2 separate regions of the Homo sapiens genome follow, and region 2 is linked to region 1. A link means that fine-mapping ties the variant in region 1 to the expression of a gene that starts in the linked region. Tissue or cell type: stomach. Region 1 holds a variant in brackets; the other region holds the start of a gene. All regions are shown on one strand. Distances are from middle to middle.

What was found. PIP is the estimated chance that this variant, and not a neighbour inherited with it, causes the effect.
Region 2: ZNF606-AS1 starts here. The variant in region 1 is fine-mapped to the expression of ZNF606-AS1 in stomach (GTEx, PIP above 0.99). The same link has a PIP of 0.9 or more in esophagus muscle, ileum, left ventricle, subcutaneous fat, sun-exposed skin and transverse colon.

The regions. Positions count from the first base shown.
Region 1 is chr19:57,952,981-57,961,084 of GRCh38, forward strand. C19orf18 (chromosome 19 open reading frame 18) reads right to left here. Exons shown (of 6, transcript NM_152474.5): 6 at 5,457-5,737. The coding sequence ends at 5,622. It also overlaps the pseudogene RPL19P19. Among named protein-coding and RNA genes, the nearest start is that of ZNF256, 9.3 kb to the left of the region's middle. RefSeq lists a silencer at 1,972-2,139. The variant C/T (reference allele first, on the strand shown) is at 4,668.
Region 2 is chr19:57,999,292-58,007,395 of GRCh38, forward strand. It overlaps ZNF606-AS1 (ZNF606 antisense RNA 1), which reads left to right and starts at 3,603. Exons shown (of 4, transcript NR_036508.1): 1 at 3,603-3,755; 2 at 3,920-4,045; 3 at 5,092-5,409; 4 at 6,616-7,915. It overlaps ZNF606 (zinc finger protein 606), which reads right to left and starts at 3,529. Exons shown (of 7, transcript NM_001348022.3): 1 at 3,105-3,529; 2 at 1,998-2,079; 3 at 1,392-1,448; 4 at 517-605. The coding sequence starts at 2,028. RefSeq lists an enhancer at 3,461-3,880.

The DNA.
Region 1 (8,104 bases):
TCCTCAGTGTTGGTCAGGCTGGTCTCAAACTCCTGACCTCGTGATCCGCCCGCCTCAGCCTTCCAAAGTGCTGGGATCACAGGCGTGAGCCACTGTGCCCGGCCGTCTTGTTTTATTTTAATGGCTGATCTATGTAATCACGGAGGCCAGTATGTACAGACAAGAAAGGGGGAGCTTTTATTGCTTCTCTCTTCCTCCTTGGACAAAGTCTTGATATCACCTCCTTCTTGGCCTGAGTGTACTCTTCAGCCACTTGTGTGCTTGCTTGTTCTCAGACCTGTGGGCCTCAGCCTGGGCAGCCAGGAGCTTCTTTTGGGCCTTTTCTGCCTTCAGCTCGTGGACGTGCTCCATGAGGATGTGCTCCATGAGAATCTGCTTGTTTTGAACACATTTGCTTTCACCTTCAGGTACAAGCTGGGATACATTTGGTGGTCAATCTTCTTAACTTCATGGGATCTTCTGAGCAGCCCGTGCAGAATCCTCATTCTCCTCATCCAAGTTACCTTCTCTGGCATTCAGGCATTGGCCATACCCTTTAGCTTACCTATGTCCATGTACTCACCCTTCCAGCAGGCCAAGGCATTTTTCCAGCATCGAGCCCGGAAATGGACAGTCACAGGCTTGTGGATGTTCAGCCTATCTTTGATCAGCTTCTGGATCTGCTGATGGGAGGTGGCATTGGTGATTTCACTGGTCTCCTTGGAGTGCAATTAGACCTTCTCCTTGCCACAGCAAAGGACATGAGAGGTGAGCCTCTTCTGAAGCCTGCGCATACTCATGGCTTCGGCTGCAGCAGCAGCTAAAGGAAAGAGCTCTGAGGTTCCCAGTTTCTTGTCGGCTGTTGCTGGGGGCCATCTCAACTGCTAGGGGCCCGTGGCGTGGCCCTCTCACAGCAGGAGGATCTCGCTCCCGTGTGCTGAGGCAGTCTTATAGAACAGTGAAGGGGGGGAGTATCTTATTGCCTTGGCCTAATCACAAGAGTGACGTCTGTCAGATTCACAGCCCCCACTCAATGGAAGGAAATTAGGCAACTGAGTGCACTGAGGGGTGAGAATCTTGGGGCCATCTTATAATTCTGCCTCCCATTGCAGTTTTTGCTAATAGACATCTGCCCACGAAGATCCATGTTCTTCCCTTCCTTGTTCACTTGATATTTGCTACAAAGCAGCCCAGTCTGTCCACGCTGGAGGCTAGGTATGGCATGGCATGTTCCCAGCAGAACTAGAACTGGAGCATGAACCATGCTGGCTACCACTGCCTGGAGGACCATGCACAGTCTATAGTCCCTGGTGGATTCCAGAGCCACCAAGGCATGCAGGAGGCTCCTCCCTGTCTTCCCTCTCTCTGGGCTGCTCATCTGGAACTCCTGAGCTCAGGTGATCCGCCCACCTCTGCCTCCCAAAGTGCTGGGATTACAGGCATGAGCCACCATGCCCAGCCTGGGCACCTCATCTGATTTAGGACCCTGGAATAGAATTGCTCTGAGAATTATCAATGAAGGAATAGATTTTACCCCTGCATCTGCTGGTTCCATTGCCCCTCATCCGGCTCCCAGGAAAGCTTTGAATTGTGGGCAAAACCAGGTGGCACTGGCAGAGACATTCTTGGGGTTGGTGTCTCCCCTAAAACACACTGTGCCTTCTAGAGAGGTTCCCTAGAAGTCGCGATCTTTGCTGAGAAATATCCACACATGCTTTGCCACATTGTCAATCATAGGAACATGCTGCCCAACAAATATTTGTGGCATAGTAAAATGTTTTTAAAAGCAGTTGCTATGGATTGAACGTATCCCCCCCCAACTCCCCGCCATCAATTCATGTGTCCTGATGTGATGGTATTTAGAAACAGGCCTTCTGGAGGTGATTAGGTCATGAGGATAGAGCCCTCATGCATGGGATTAGTGCCCTTACAAGACGAGACAGAAAAGAGCTTCCTCTCTCTCTCAGGAATAATGGTGCTCAGGAGAACCCAGCCATACTGGCACCCTGATCCTAGACTTACAACTCCCAGAACTGTCGGAAATACATGTTTGTTGTTTAGGCCACACAATCTGTGGCAGACAAGCTAACTAAAACTGCAGTCTTGCAGGCTAGTGTCTCCCTAGTTAGGATTTGATCTCAGAGCCTCAAGGGCTGGGCATGGCTCTTGCCTCAAGGATTGAAGTTGCAGGGAGGGACATGGAGGCCTGTCCAGGACCTGGGAGTTGTGCCTTGGTACAGTGCCCTGGCCGCTCTGTCCTGTGCCCCCGGGGCTGCCCATCCCATGTGTGATTCCTACTGGCTGCACTGTGCAGGCAGGACCAAGCTGTCGGCTTGAGAAATGCTTTGCACTGTCCCAATTTCTAATATACACACTGACTTTTGCCTTCTCACATTGTCTGTTCTAATTTTTAAAATTTAATTTAGGAAAGATGGAAACTGAAAGGAAGGGTTAGAAGACCTGAGTCTGAGTTCAGTTCATCCTCAACATAGACTAATTTTTTTGTGGTTTTTTTTTTGTTTTTTTTTTTGAGACGGAGTCTCACTCTGTCACCAGGCTGGAGTGCAGTGGCTCGATCTCGGCTCACTGTAATCTCTGCCTCCCGGGTTCAAGCGATTCTCCTGCCTCAGCCTCCTGAGTAGCTGGGACTACAGGTGCCCACCACCACGCCCAGCTAATTTTTTGTATTTTTAGTAGCGACAGGGTTTCACCATGTTGGCCAGGATGGTCTCGATTTCCTGACCTCGTGATCCACCCTCTTCAGCCTCCCAAAGTGCTGGGATTACAAGCGTGAGTTACCATGCCCGGCCCAGGCTAATGTTTTTTTTTTAACAGCTTGACTGAGATTTATTTCATTTAGTGCAAAGTTCACTCTTTTAAAGTATGCAGTTCAGGCCAGGAGTGGTGGCTCACATCTGTAATCCCAGCACTTTGGGAGGCTGAGGTGGGCAGATCACTTGAGGTCAGGAGTTCAAGACCAGACTGGCCAATGTGGTGAAACCCTGTCTCCACTAAAAATATAAAAATTAGCTGGGCCTGGTGGTGGATGCCTGTAATCCCAGCTACTTGGGAGGCTGAGGCAGGAGAATTGCTTGAACCTGGAAGGCAGAGGGCCAGGCATCGTGGCTCACGCCTGTAATCCCAGCACTTTGGGAGGCTGAGGTGGGAGGATCATGAGGTCAGGAGATCGAGACCATCCTGGCGAACACGATGAAACCCCATCTCTACTAAAAATACAAAAGAATTAGCCAGGCATGGTGGCAGGCGCCAGTAGTCCCAGCTACTCAGGAGGCTGAGGCAGGAGAATGGTGTGAACCCGGGAGGCGGAGCTTGCAGTGAGCTGAGATCGCGCCACTGCACTCCAGCCTGGGCAACAGAGCGAGACTCCGTCTCAAAAAAAACCAAAAAAACAGAACCTGGAAGGCAGAGGTTGCAGTGAGTCGAGATCGTGCCACTGCACTCCAGCCTGGGTGACAGAGTGAGGGAGACTCTGTCTCAAAAAAATAAAAAATAATAAAATATGCAATTTAGTGCTTTTTGTATATTCACAAAGTTTACAACCATCACCACTATCAAATTTTCTAACATTTTCTTTTTTCTTTTCTTCTTTTTTTTTTTTTTTTTTTTAAGACCGAGTCTGGCTCTGTTGCCCAGGCTGGAGGGCAGTGGCACAATCTTGGCTCACTGCAACCTCCACCTCCTGGGCTCAAGTCATCCTCTCTCACCTCAGCCTCCCAAGTAGCTGAGACTACAGGCTCATGCCACTATGCCCCACTAATTTTTGTACTTTTTGTGAGACGGGGTTTTGCCATGTTGCCCAGGCTGTTCTCAAACTCCTGAGCTCAAGTGATTCACCTGCCTCAGCCTCCTAAAGTGCTGGGATTACAGGCATGAGCCACTGTGCCCAGCCTCTAACATTTTCATTCCCCATAAAGAAACCTCGTACCCACAAGCAGTCTTCCCCCTCCTGCTGCCCCAGCTCCTGGAACCACCAATCTACTTTCTGCATCTATACAGTTTCCTATTCTGGCCATTTTTAAAGAACAGAATCACACAATATGTGTCTGGCTTCTTGCTCTTAGCATAATGTTTTTCAGTTTGTTTATATTGTAGTGTGCGTAAGAACTTCACTCTTTTTTCTTTTTCTTTTCTTTTTCTTTTTTTTTTTTTTTTGAGACAGCCTCGGTCTGTAGCCCAGGCTGGAGTGCAGTGGTGCGATCTCGACTCACTGCAAACTCCGCCTCCCGGGTTCACGCCATTCTCCTGCCTCAGTCTCATGAGTAGCTGGGATCACAGGCATCCGCCACCACGCCCAGCTAAATTTTTGTATTTTTAGTAGAGACGGGGTTTCACCATGTTGGCCAGGATGGCCTCGATCCCCTGACCTCATGATCTGCCCCCTTGGCCTCCCAGAGTGACTTCATTCTTTTTTGTTGCTGAAAAATATTTAATTGTACAGATAGACCACATTTTGTTTATCCATTTGTTGGTTAATGGACATTTGGGTTGTTTCCACCTTCTGGCTCTTATGAATGGTGCTGCTAAGAACATTAGTGTGCAGGTTTTTGTGTGTACATGTGTTTTCAGTTCTCTTGCATGTACACCTAGGAGTGGACTTGCTGGGTCATACAGTAACTCTATGTTTAACTTTCTGAGGAACCGTCAGATTGTTTTCCAAAACAGCCGCA[C/T]CGTTTCACTCACTCTTGCCTCTTTGCATTCCCACAGCCCTTGGTGTCCACTTGCTACCTCTGGCCGTGTTTCTTAGCTCCTTGCCTGTGGGCCTGTTTCCCTCAAGAGAGCTGGAACCTGACGGCGATGAGTGTGTATTTCTTTTTTGTGTGGAGACGGGGACTCACTATGTTGTCCAGGCTGCTCTTGAACTCCTGGACTCAAGCAATCTGCCTGCCTCATGCTCCCAAAGTGTTGGAATTACAGGCATGAGCCATCATGACTGGCCTGGATGAGTGTGTTTTACTTATTTTATTTAATTATTTTATTTATTTATTTTATTTAATTAATTAATTTTTGAGACAGGATCTTGCTCTGTCAACCAGGCTGGAGTGCGGTGGCGCGATCTCGGCTCACTGCAAACTCCGCCTCCCGGATTCAAGCGATTCTCCTGCCTCAGCCTCCTGAGTAGCTGGGATTACAGGCGCATGCCACCATGCCTGACTAATGATGAGTGTGTTTTAATCCGGAGTCATATTTATTTTAACATCCTCAGTTTCCTCATGTGTACAAAGGAAACAAGGTATGGAGCTGACAGGTAATCTCACCAGGAAAGTTTTGCTTCATGAAAGCTATTCCCTGGCTAGTCTGGGAGATGGCCCCCCAAAACTACTTGTGCGGTATTTCTGGTCAGGAGCAAGAGAAGAAAATCCTGACAAGTTCTCTTAACCCTTAACAAAGTTGGATTCTATTCTATTTTCCAATTAAGTTATAATTATTCATCAACTATGAGAGCCAATAAGCAAGAGTTGCTATATCATGTGGCTTTATTTTCTGGGATACAGGTCTGGCATTTCTTTCTTTGATGTCCTCTTCCATAAGGTTCTCTGGGAGCAAGCCACGCCCACAGGCTCAGTCTCCCAGCACCCCCATAGTTTCTCCTCTGCCTCAGCCGGCACCTCTGTCGTCTGCGTTCACAAGTCTTCCATTTTTCCATTATGTGACGCATTCTTTGTTTTGTTTTCTGTTACTGAGTTTTGCTCTTCCTTCAGTTTCTTCTTAATATTTTTGCTTCTTTTTGATATAATAACTAAAATGTAGAAATGATGTTATTGAGATAGTAATAAGTGAGGAATAAAAATGGAGACAAAAGGGGTGAGGGAAAAAGCCTGGAAAAATAGAGGTACCAACAGTGGAATTTTCAGAGGATTCATAATGAATGTTATTTGTCTGACAAGGATGGTGAAAATTAAATTTTAAAATTATTTTCCCATATTTTGTATTCAAGTTGTATAAATGCCCAGTAAAAGAAGAAGAAGAATGTAGAAAATTTATAATCCAATGTGGTAAAGAGACATTGGGAAAATGTTTTCTACAGGTTATGACAAAGTCCTCTGCCTCAGTGAGCATCAGTGATCTCTCCTGCTGTGGCTGTTCTGCCTCTTTCTGGCTATGTCTGGAGTTTTTAGAGAGTGAGTCCATGTGAGGATGGTTAGTATGTCTGAATCACACACTACACTCTCTATAGTTTTCTCTCTAGAATTTTTTAAACAGGTACCCACGAATCTCAGAACTTCTAGGCTGGGCTCAGTGGCTCACACCTATAATCCCAGCACTTTGGGAGGCCAAGACGGGAAGATCTCTTAAGCCCAGGAGTTTGTGACCAACCTGGGCAACATGGTGAAAACTGTCTCTACTAAAAATACAAAAACTAGCCCGGCGCAGTGGCTCATGCCTGTAATCCCAGGACTTTGGGAGGCTGAACAGGGCGGATCACTTGAAGTCAAGAGTTCGAGACCAGCCTGGCCAACATGGTGAGACCCCCCATCTCTACTAAAAATACAAAAATAAGACAGGCGTGGTGGCATGTGCCTGTAATCCCAGCTACTCGGGAGGCTGAAGCATGAGAATCACTTGAACCCAGGAGGCGGAGGTTACAGTGAACCAAGATCACACCACTGCACTCCAGCCTGGGCAACAGAGCGAGACTCCATCTCAAAAAGAAACCACAAACAAAAATGAGCCCGGCATAGTGACATGCACCGTAGTCCCAGCAACTCAGGAGGCTGAGGTGGGAGGATTAACTGAGCCCAGGAGGTTGGGGCTTCAGTGAGCTGATATTGCACCACTGCACTCCAGCCTGGGTGACGTAGTGAAACTCTGCCTCAAAAAAAAAAAAAAAAAGAAAAAAGAAAAAAAAGGCCAGGAGCGGTGGCTCACACCTGTACTCCTAGCACTTTGGGAGGCCGAGGCGGGTGGATCAATTGAGGTCAGGAGTTCGAGACCAGCCTGGCTAACTGGTGAAACTCCGTCTCTACTAAAAATACAAAAATTAGCCAGGGGTCATGGTGCACGCCTGTAATCCCAGCTACTCGGGAGGCTGAGGCAGGAGAATTGCTTGAACCCAGGAGGCAAAGGTTGCAGTGAGCCAAGATTTCGCCACTGCACTACAGCCTGGGTGACATAGGGAGACTCTGTCTCAAAAAAAAAAGATAAATAAATAAAATAAATTCTACAGGCGGGGTGCATTGGCTTATGCCTGTAATCCCAGCACTTTGGGAGGCTGAGGTGGGTGGATTACAAGGTCAGGAGATCGAGACCATCCTGGCTAACACGGTGAAACCCCGTCTCTACTAAAAATACAAAAAGTTAGCTGGGTGTGGTGGCGGGTGCCTATAGTCCCAGCTACTCGGGAGGCTGAGGCAGGAGAATGGCGTGAACCCGGGAGGCAGAGCTTGCAGCGAGCTGAGATCATGCCACTGCACTCCAGCCTGGGCAACAGAGCAAGACTCCGCCTCAAAAAAAAAAAAAAAAAAAAGAACTTCTACAAAATCAGTTTTAAATAATCAATTTCATCCTCTTCTCACAAGGACAGCAGAACATGTCTGTGGTGGGCATGGCATGCTGGGAAATTTTACCCTGGGGTAGTGACCTCTATTTTGTGGGTCTGGATCCCATTTTCACGTCAGATGGAGACAGATGGTGCAGGTGAAACATCTGCGTGTCTGTGTTCTGAATGCAGGATAACATCACGGTAATGAGTATGTTTAACGGAAACATGTTTTGTGCTGGGAAAAGTTTGTTTCCTGAACTCTGTTAGATCCGTGGAATTGCCCTGCAAAAGGAACTGAGCAACCCCACAGCTGTTCACCCCTCTGTAAGATTTGATGAGAAAGGTTCATTTCCGTAAGTGTGGCTGTGAATATTTGTCTCTCTTACTTCAAACTCCCTTAACTCCCACTTATCTTTGCCTTTGAAAACCAAGCCACAGGCCAGGCGCGGTGGCTCACGCCTGTAATCCCAGCACTTTGGGAGGCCGAGGCGGGCGGATCACGAGGTCAGGAGATCGAGACCATCCTGGCACCCGAGCGTTGGTGGTATAGTGGTGAGCATAGCTGCCTTCCGAGACCATCCTGGCTAAAATGGTGAAACCCCGTCTCTACTAAAAATACAAAAA
Region 2 (8,104 bases), 46 kb after region 1:
GACTGTGCTCCTGCAGGCCTACCCTACCCGTCTCAGGTTTCTCCTGTCCCACACTGCACGTGTGGCTCCAGGTAGGCCGTGAGATCTCCTTAGCTGAGTGAATAACCCTGGAAAAGGGTCTGGGAGCTCCTCAGGGTGAAGGCTCACACCTGTCCTTGTTCCCTTCACAGCAGGCACAGCAGGCACTGCACAGCATCAGCCTAAATCGGGTGCTAAAGACATGAGTGAAGGTGGCAATAGAGAAGTGGGGCTGCCAGCCAAAAGGGCTGCCCTTCATGCCCCACAACAAGCCAGGGAGAGTTGGAGCTCAGTACTGTGGACAGACTGGTTGACACTAAGGCTCCGAATCACTAAAAACGGCCTAATTCTCCCTACCTGCTCTCAGGAAGGATTAACTTCCAGTTGCTTCCTTCCCTACCCAAACTCCAACTGTTGTAAACTGGAGAGCCGCATCAACTGGGATGACCAGGGATAACCTGGACATCATCCTCTGGGAACAGGACAGCCCCATCTCACCTGAACCTGGGCTGCTGGGAGCCCAGTGGCCCTCCTCCCCTCCTCCAGGCTTCCCTCCACGTGCCAGGCAGGATACTGAGGACACAGAGCTAGGAAACGAGAAAAAAGTCATGGAGGCAGCTCTCGCTGCCAGGAGCTCACCTTTTCTTCTGGGGGGCTGAGAACCAGCCCCTGCCCCTCCCCCTTGAATGAGGAAAGAGACCCACTTCCTCATTCTATAGATGAAGGAATTAGGGCTCAGAGAAGGTTAGGAAAGTACCTAAACACATGAATCTCTCATTGGCCCCCCCTGTGCTATTGGGTACCATCTCTGAGAAGCAGTGTCTGGTCACAACCTTCCTGGGCCTGAACCCTAAACGGCCACACATGAATTCTCATGCATCTTGAGATGTCACCATCACCTTACTGCTCACTGGTTTTCTTTTTTTTTTTGAGACTGAGTCTCGCTCTGTCGCCCAGGCTGGAGTGCAGTGGCACGATCTTGGCTCACTGCACGCTCCGCCTCCTGGCTTCACGCCATTCTCCTGCCTCAGCCTCCCGAGCAGCTGGGACTACAGGCGCCCACCACCACGCCCAGCTAATTTTTTGTATTTTGTTTTAGTAGAGACGGGGTTTCACCGTGTTAGCCAGGATGGTCTCGATCTCCTGACCTCGTGATCCACTCGCCTCGGCCTCCCAAAGTGCTGTAGGCGTGAGTCACCACGCCTGGCCACTAGTTTTCTGATTCCTCCTTGTTCCAGCTCTGCACAGAGACAGATCTGGACCACCTGCCCTAAAGCCCCACCTGGTCCCCATTCTATTCCCCAGCTGTGGCAGAGCACTACAGCCAGAGGCCACAATATGGCAGCCCACAGCTGACCAGGCTCTTGACTCACCCCAGGAGGCCCATGGGTCAACAGCTGTCATCCCCCAAGATTGGTCCGTAAGGGCACCTGCACAGAAGGATCAGGTTAGGACTGTGACACCAAACCTAGTGATTCAAGGCGACAAAATACAAGAGGAGGCTGACTCGCTAATGGGCACTACAAAATTCCATAAACAGAGCCCAAGGGTGTGTAAAAAAAATGCAACATAAGCTGGATTCACACAGGCAATGCACAGGTGAGTCACTATTAATTAACACCGTTTTAAAATTACCAACCAATGCTATATAAGTAAAAACAATAAAGGTAAAAATATATATGAGAGCAGTAGAGACAATATTTTATTATATGTATCACTGTTGTTTAGGAAACCCCACAAACCACCAGAAAAATCCCTTAAAACTAATGACACCTCTCAGGAGATGACTATAAAACATAAAAGTTAGTGTCTTTTATGCCAACAATTTTCCTCCTTTACCACCAATCAGTTCTAATTTTGTACCAAGATAGACAGACCCCCTTCCATCCTCAAAAGTCCTCAGCCCATCACCAGCTCTGACCCATGACTGCAGCAGCTAATGATAGGGGAGGCCCAGGAGAAACACAACTTGGACTCACCCCAGGAGGCCCACGGGTTGATGGCTGCCATCCCGAGGACTGATTGACCAGGCACCTGCCCAGGAACACAGCAAATCCCAACCTAGTGACAAAAGTGAAAAAAGACAAAACTAGTCCTTTCTCACAGAAGACCAAGTGGGAACAAAGAAGGGAATCCATCCACCGAAGCAACAAAAAAACTTGTAAGGAGCATCGTAAGAAAAGAGAATTTACATGTCAAAAAAGTAACACAATTCCTGGAGAGAAATGAAAGGTAATTTGCATAAGCTGGAAAAAAGAGCATGATCCTGAATGAGAGGGTACAAATTTGTCAGCTATTCCCAAGAGACAGCCAGTCACAACACAGATGGAACTTTTGGATTAATCTGACAATTATTGTAAAATCAACTTGCAATCCTCATATATTAGTGGTTGCCTAGAGCTGGGGGAAAAATGAAATGGGGAGTGACTGCTTAAGGGGAACAAGGGTTTCTTTGTGGGGTGATGAAATGTTCTAAAATTAGATAATGGGGATGATTGCACAACTTTATTAATATACAATAAAACCGGTGAATTGCACACTTTTAAGTGCTTAAAGTGAACATTATGTTATGCAAATTTAATCCCACCTCCAAAAAAAATTCACCTCCAAGATTTACTAAGCCTAAGCTTGTGTGTGTGTGGAGGACTTAGAGATGGGCCTGGCGCCCAGACCCCTAACTCCTCAGGTTCCAGATCTTTGTACAAGTCAGCAACCTCTCGAATGGATTCCTGGGTATGTGTATAAAGCACTAGAACACACAGTGGGCCTCAGGAGCACCGGAATCAGCGCGAAAACGCAGAATGCAAACCGTACTTTGCACCATTATTTGCAACTTGACAGTGACCGCCGCCGTCACTGCATGTTTAAGGGAACCCGGAGCTGTTTCCAACCCAGGTCTGACGTCCTTCACAGTGCTTTGTGTGAACTGGCAGGGGGAGAAACGACGGCTGGGGAACGAACGGGGTTATTCGTCCCATCAATGGCCTCAGAAGCATCCTTATCACCTGCTTCCAGAGCTCCCGACCCAAATTTCCTCCTCAAGACCGACGCGGCCGCGACGCTGCAAAAGCTCGTCCCGGCCTCACCTGGCTCGCGGCCGGCGGTCCCCCTTGAAGGCGGCGCAGCAGGATCGGGGTCTGCCCGCCTGGGGCGTTTGGCTTTTGTCCCGCGCCGAGGTCCGGCCCAGGAGTGCGCTTGGGAGCTCCCGGCGCGGCCTCGGGGACAAAGGCCCGCGGAGCCGACGTGCAGCAGAGTTCACCCAGGCCCGTCCGACCAGAAAACGAAGAACGCCCGGAGGCGGGAGGCCGGAGGCAGGCTGCTGGCTGGAGAACCGACGGCAACGACGGCGCAAAGCCGGCGCGGAAAGGGCAGGCGCAGGACCCACCCTGACGCCGCCTCTCCCAGCCGGCTCTCCTGACCCCCCAAGCCCCGCAGCTACGGCGGCCCCACAGCCTGAGCAAAGGCCTCACCTCAGCCGCGGACAATGGCGGCTGCTTCCCCGGCGTCGACCGGAGCGCGCCGCGGGGTCTGCTGGGAGCTGTAGTTCCAGGCGGGCACTTCCGGCGTCGGGCAGCGGCGCCGCCATGACAGGTTCCTGGGCCGCGCCGCCTCGCCCTGCCTGGGCGGGGTTGGGACCTTTCTGGCACCTGCGTCGAAGCCGGCGGCAGGATGGACTTTGTTGTCCCGGTCCCAGACCACCCTCCTCCACCGTCGCCTCCCACTGCAAAAAGGCCTGGGTAAGTCGCGGCCCCGCGGGCCTCGGTTTGCCCATCCGCAAAATGGCGCCTCGTGGTACCGGGTTTCCCGGGAGGAGCTCGGCGAGTTCTCAGCGCTCTCGAGGGATCCTTCCATTTGGCGTTCGCAAGATTGTGAGAAAGTGACTGCTGTTATTCTCTTTAAGATAAGGAACCTAATTCGAGCTACCCTTCTCTGTGAAGCTCGACGGCTGAGAACGTCAGGGCTCGTTCCCAAGTCTCTTTCCAGAGGCCAGGCTTTATGGGAGCATGGGTTACCAGCGACGCACCCTGTGAGTTTTCCTCTATCGATATGCATGGAGCGGTTCGGGAGCGGTGGCTCATTCCTGTAGTCCCAGCACTTCGGGAAGCTGTGGCGGGAGGATCAGTTGAGTTCAGGAGTTCGACACCACCCTGGGCAACATAGCGAGACCACATCTCTACAAAAAAAATACAAAAATTAGCCCGGTGTGATGGCGCGCGCCTGTAGTCCCCGCTACTTAGGAGGTTGCGGTGGAAGGATTGCTTGAGCCTGGGAGGTCAAGGTTGCAGTGAGCTATGATCGCACCACTGCACTTCAGCCTGGGCAACAGAGCAAGACCCGGCATTAAAACAAACAAAAACGGGCCGGGCGCGGTGGCTCACAGCTGTAATCCCAGCACTTTGGGAGGCCAAGGCAGGTGGATCGCCTGAGGTCAGGAGTTCCGAGACCAGTCTGGGCAACATGATAAAACCTCGTCTCTACTAAAAATACCAAAAATTAGCCGGGCTTGGTGGAGGGCACCTGTACCCAGCTACTTGGGAGGCTGAGGCAGGAGAATCGCTTGAACCCGGGAAGCGGAGGCTACAGTAAGCCGAGATCAAGCCATTGCACTCCAGCCTGGGCAGCAGGGCAAGACTCTGTCTCAAAAAAAGGGACTGAGGGACTGTAGGTGGTGATACCAAAGAAAGCATGGCCATTTAGGAAGCTAGACTTGAGTGAGCAGTGGGCAAGAGAGATTTTGAAGATATTTCCACTAGTAATGGAGGATCATTTTAAAAAGCTGGCCTGTGGGTTGGGCTTTTGTTGTTGGGTGGTGTTGGCACTCACTGTGGGTGGGCAAAGGGGAGTAGCCCTTTCAGAGGGAGAGGAAAAGTTCAAGTAGGACAGGCTGAATTCAAGGGAGAGGAAAATTTCAAGTAGGACAGGCTGAATTCGAGGGAGAGGACCATGAGAGAGGTAAGGTGGAAGGGGCAAGGTGTTGGGACAGGCCCCAGCTGGCAGGAAGGTGAACCCAGTCAGAGTGGGCACTGAGAGGAAAGCAATCTATGGATGGTACAGCCACAATTTCCATCTCAGGATCAAGCAGAGAAAGAGAGGCTGGAGAAGGAAGAGTGACAGAAGTAAGAAGAGAGTGTCTCTCCACTTCCACTCCAGCCCCCTACAGCTCATCCTCCAGCAGGCAGCCAAGGGCACTTTTAGGATCTCACATCAGGTCCTTGCCTCACATTCTGCACTGGCTTCCCAAGTAATTAAAGTAAAATCCAAATTCCAGCTCACAGCTTAGAAAACTCAGCAGGACTGGCCTCTGTCCTATCCCACACCCCACCTCAGTCCCTCAAGCTCATCTCCTGTCATTCCTGCCCATTTCTGGACCCCAGCCACTCCTCAAACAGGGTAAGTCCATTCCTGCTTCAGGGCCTTTGTACGTATTGTTTCCTCTTCCTGGAATCTTCTTCCTTGTACAGCCCCAGGGTTTTCTTTTTTTCATCCAGATCACAGCACAGATGTCACATCCTGGTAACAGCCAGCTGTGACTCATCTCCCTAATTCTCAATTGTATTACTCTCTTTTTATTTTCTTCGTATCGTAACTGATAGTCTCATACAGTACAGAAGCCAAGTTTTAAGATATGCAATCACCAAATACCTGCTACACAAACCTCAATGTTCATATAAAATAAGACTAGAATTCATATTCTAAAGAGAGATGAGGTAGCTCTGTTCACTTTTGAGAGGGAACTCAAATGAGAGAGATACCTTTGACCTAAAGGTGTCAGGAAACCAGATGAAGAAAAACACCCCTGCTATGATTTGAATGTTTTTATCCTCTCCAAAATTCATGTTGAAACTTACTCCCCAGTGCAGTAGTGTTGGGAGGCAGGGTCTAATGGGATTTATGGAGGTCATAAGGCTCTGCTGTCATGAATGGATTAATGTTGTAAACCAAAAAATAAAATTCTAAGCCCCCCACCCCCCAACCATATGAATAGACCCCTCCTCTCAGCCAAGGGCATTCCAAAGTTAATTTGAAAAATGAGTTCGGGCCATGATGGGAAGCAGAAGCTGGACTTGCCTCATTATACCCTCCTCCCTTCTAGAATTAGTGATAGAACAGACTCTTTAAGTCTGATAAGAAACATTTACAGTCTGTTATCTCCGGAGGTTTCATCTGCTTGGTAAAACCTTGAGTTCCACAACCCCAGACATTCCTTTCTATTGACAATAACTCTTTAAATCAATTGGCAATCAGAAATCTTTAAATCTGCCTATAACCTGGAAACTTTCTGTACCAGTATACATCTTATATGTATTGATTGATGTCTCATGTCTCCCTAAGATGTATAAAAGCAAGCTGAACCCTAACCACCCTGGGCATGTCCTCAGGATCTCCTGAGAGCTGCGTCAGGGGCCACTGGTCACCATATTTGGCTCAGAGTAAATCTCTTCAAATATTTTACAGAGTTTGACTCTTCGTCAACAATGCCATTGTAAAAGGTTCATGGAGAGATTCTGCATGTGCTTGCATTCTCTTTCTCTCTCTCTCTTTCTTTCTCTCCCCCCACCCCCACCCTCCACCACCCTGCCCTTTACCTTCTGTCAGGTGAGGATGCAGTGTCCAAGGCACCATCTTGAACTCATCATCGCCAAATATGTGAGCACCTTGATGTTGGACTTCCCAACCTCCAGACCGTAAGGCAGTACATTTCTTTGTAAATTACGCAGTCTCAGCTATTCTGTTACAGCAGCACAAATGGACTAAGACAACCCCCGAGATAGGAAGGGGTAAGGTAAATGCAATGAGAGTTGGGGTTTTCGATCTTAGTCCAGTAAAGGAGCTGGAACTGTTCTGTATAAACAAAGGGCAAGGTAATTGCTACATAGATTCTTTTCTTATTATTGCTGATTCTTATCCTAAAATAAAGGACATTGCCACTACACATCCTCTAGAATGACCAAAAATAAAAATACAGCATCAAATGGGACGACATGGTGCCAACTGGAATTCTCATACCCTGCTGATGGGAGTATAATGTGGTACAGTCACTTTGGAAAAAAGTTTGACAATTTCTTATAAAATTATACATAAACCTGTACTATGACCTAGAGATTCTACTCCTGTTTGTTCAAAAGAAAGGCAAACATCTGTCCACTAAAAGATATGTACAAGAATGCTCACAGTGGCATTATTTATGACGGTCCAAACCAGGAGATAATCCAAATGTCTGTAACCAAGAGAATGGATAAAGAAATTTTGATACGTCAATTTAATGGATTACTACTTAGCAATAAAAATAATTAGCCATGCTGGGCGCGGTGGCTTATGCCTGTAATCCCAGCACTTTGGGAGGCTGAGGCAGGTGGATCACCTGAGGTTGGGAGTTCAAGACCAGCCTGACCAACATGGAGAACCCCCGTCTCTACTAAAATACAAAATTAGCCGGGGTGGTGGCGCATGCCTGTAATCCCAGCTACTCGGGAGGCTGAGGCAGGAGAATCACTTGAACCCGGGAGGTGGAGGTTGCATTGAGCCGAGATTGCGCCATTGCACTCCAGCATGGGCAAAAAGAGCAAAACTCCGTCTCAAAAAAATAAATAAATAATAATTAGCCACATATCCACACAACAATATTGCATTATCACAGGTATAGTGATAAATACTGTATGATTCCATTTATATGAAGTTCAAGAACAGGCAAGTAATCCATGATGAAAGAAGTACTTACCTCTGGGGGTGGCAGCATTGACTAAAGAGGTACAAGGGAGTCTTCTGGGGCCTGGAAATGTTCTATATCTTGATCTGGGTGGTGGTTACACAGGTATACGCGTGTTAAGAAATCATCAGGCTGTATACTTAGTGTACTGTAATGGCATTACACTGTCTTTCAATTAAAATGTGAAAGAAAAAACGGGGGTGTCTTTTGCTTCCACATTTGTAGCCCCAGCTTCTGTATCTCCTGCGTGATAATGGTTGGATGAATTAAAAGGTAGGAGGAATAGAAGAGGAGAAAAGCAATAGGAAGAGGAAGGCTGGAAGAAAAGCCCAGCTCCACTGTCTCACTTGGGTGTCACTGGGTACTGGGGAATTTGGA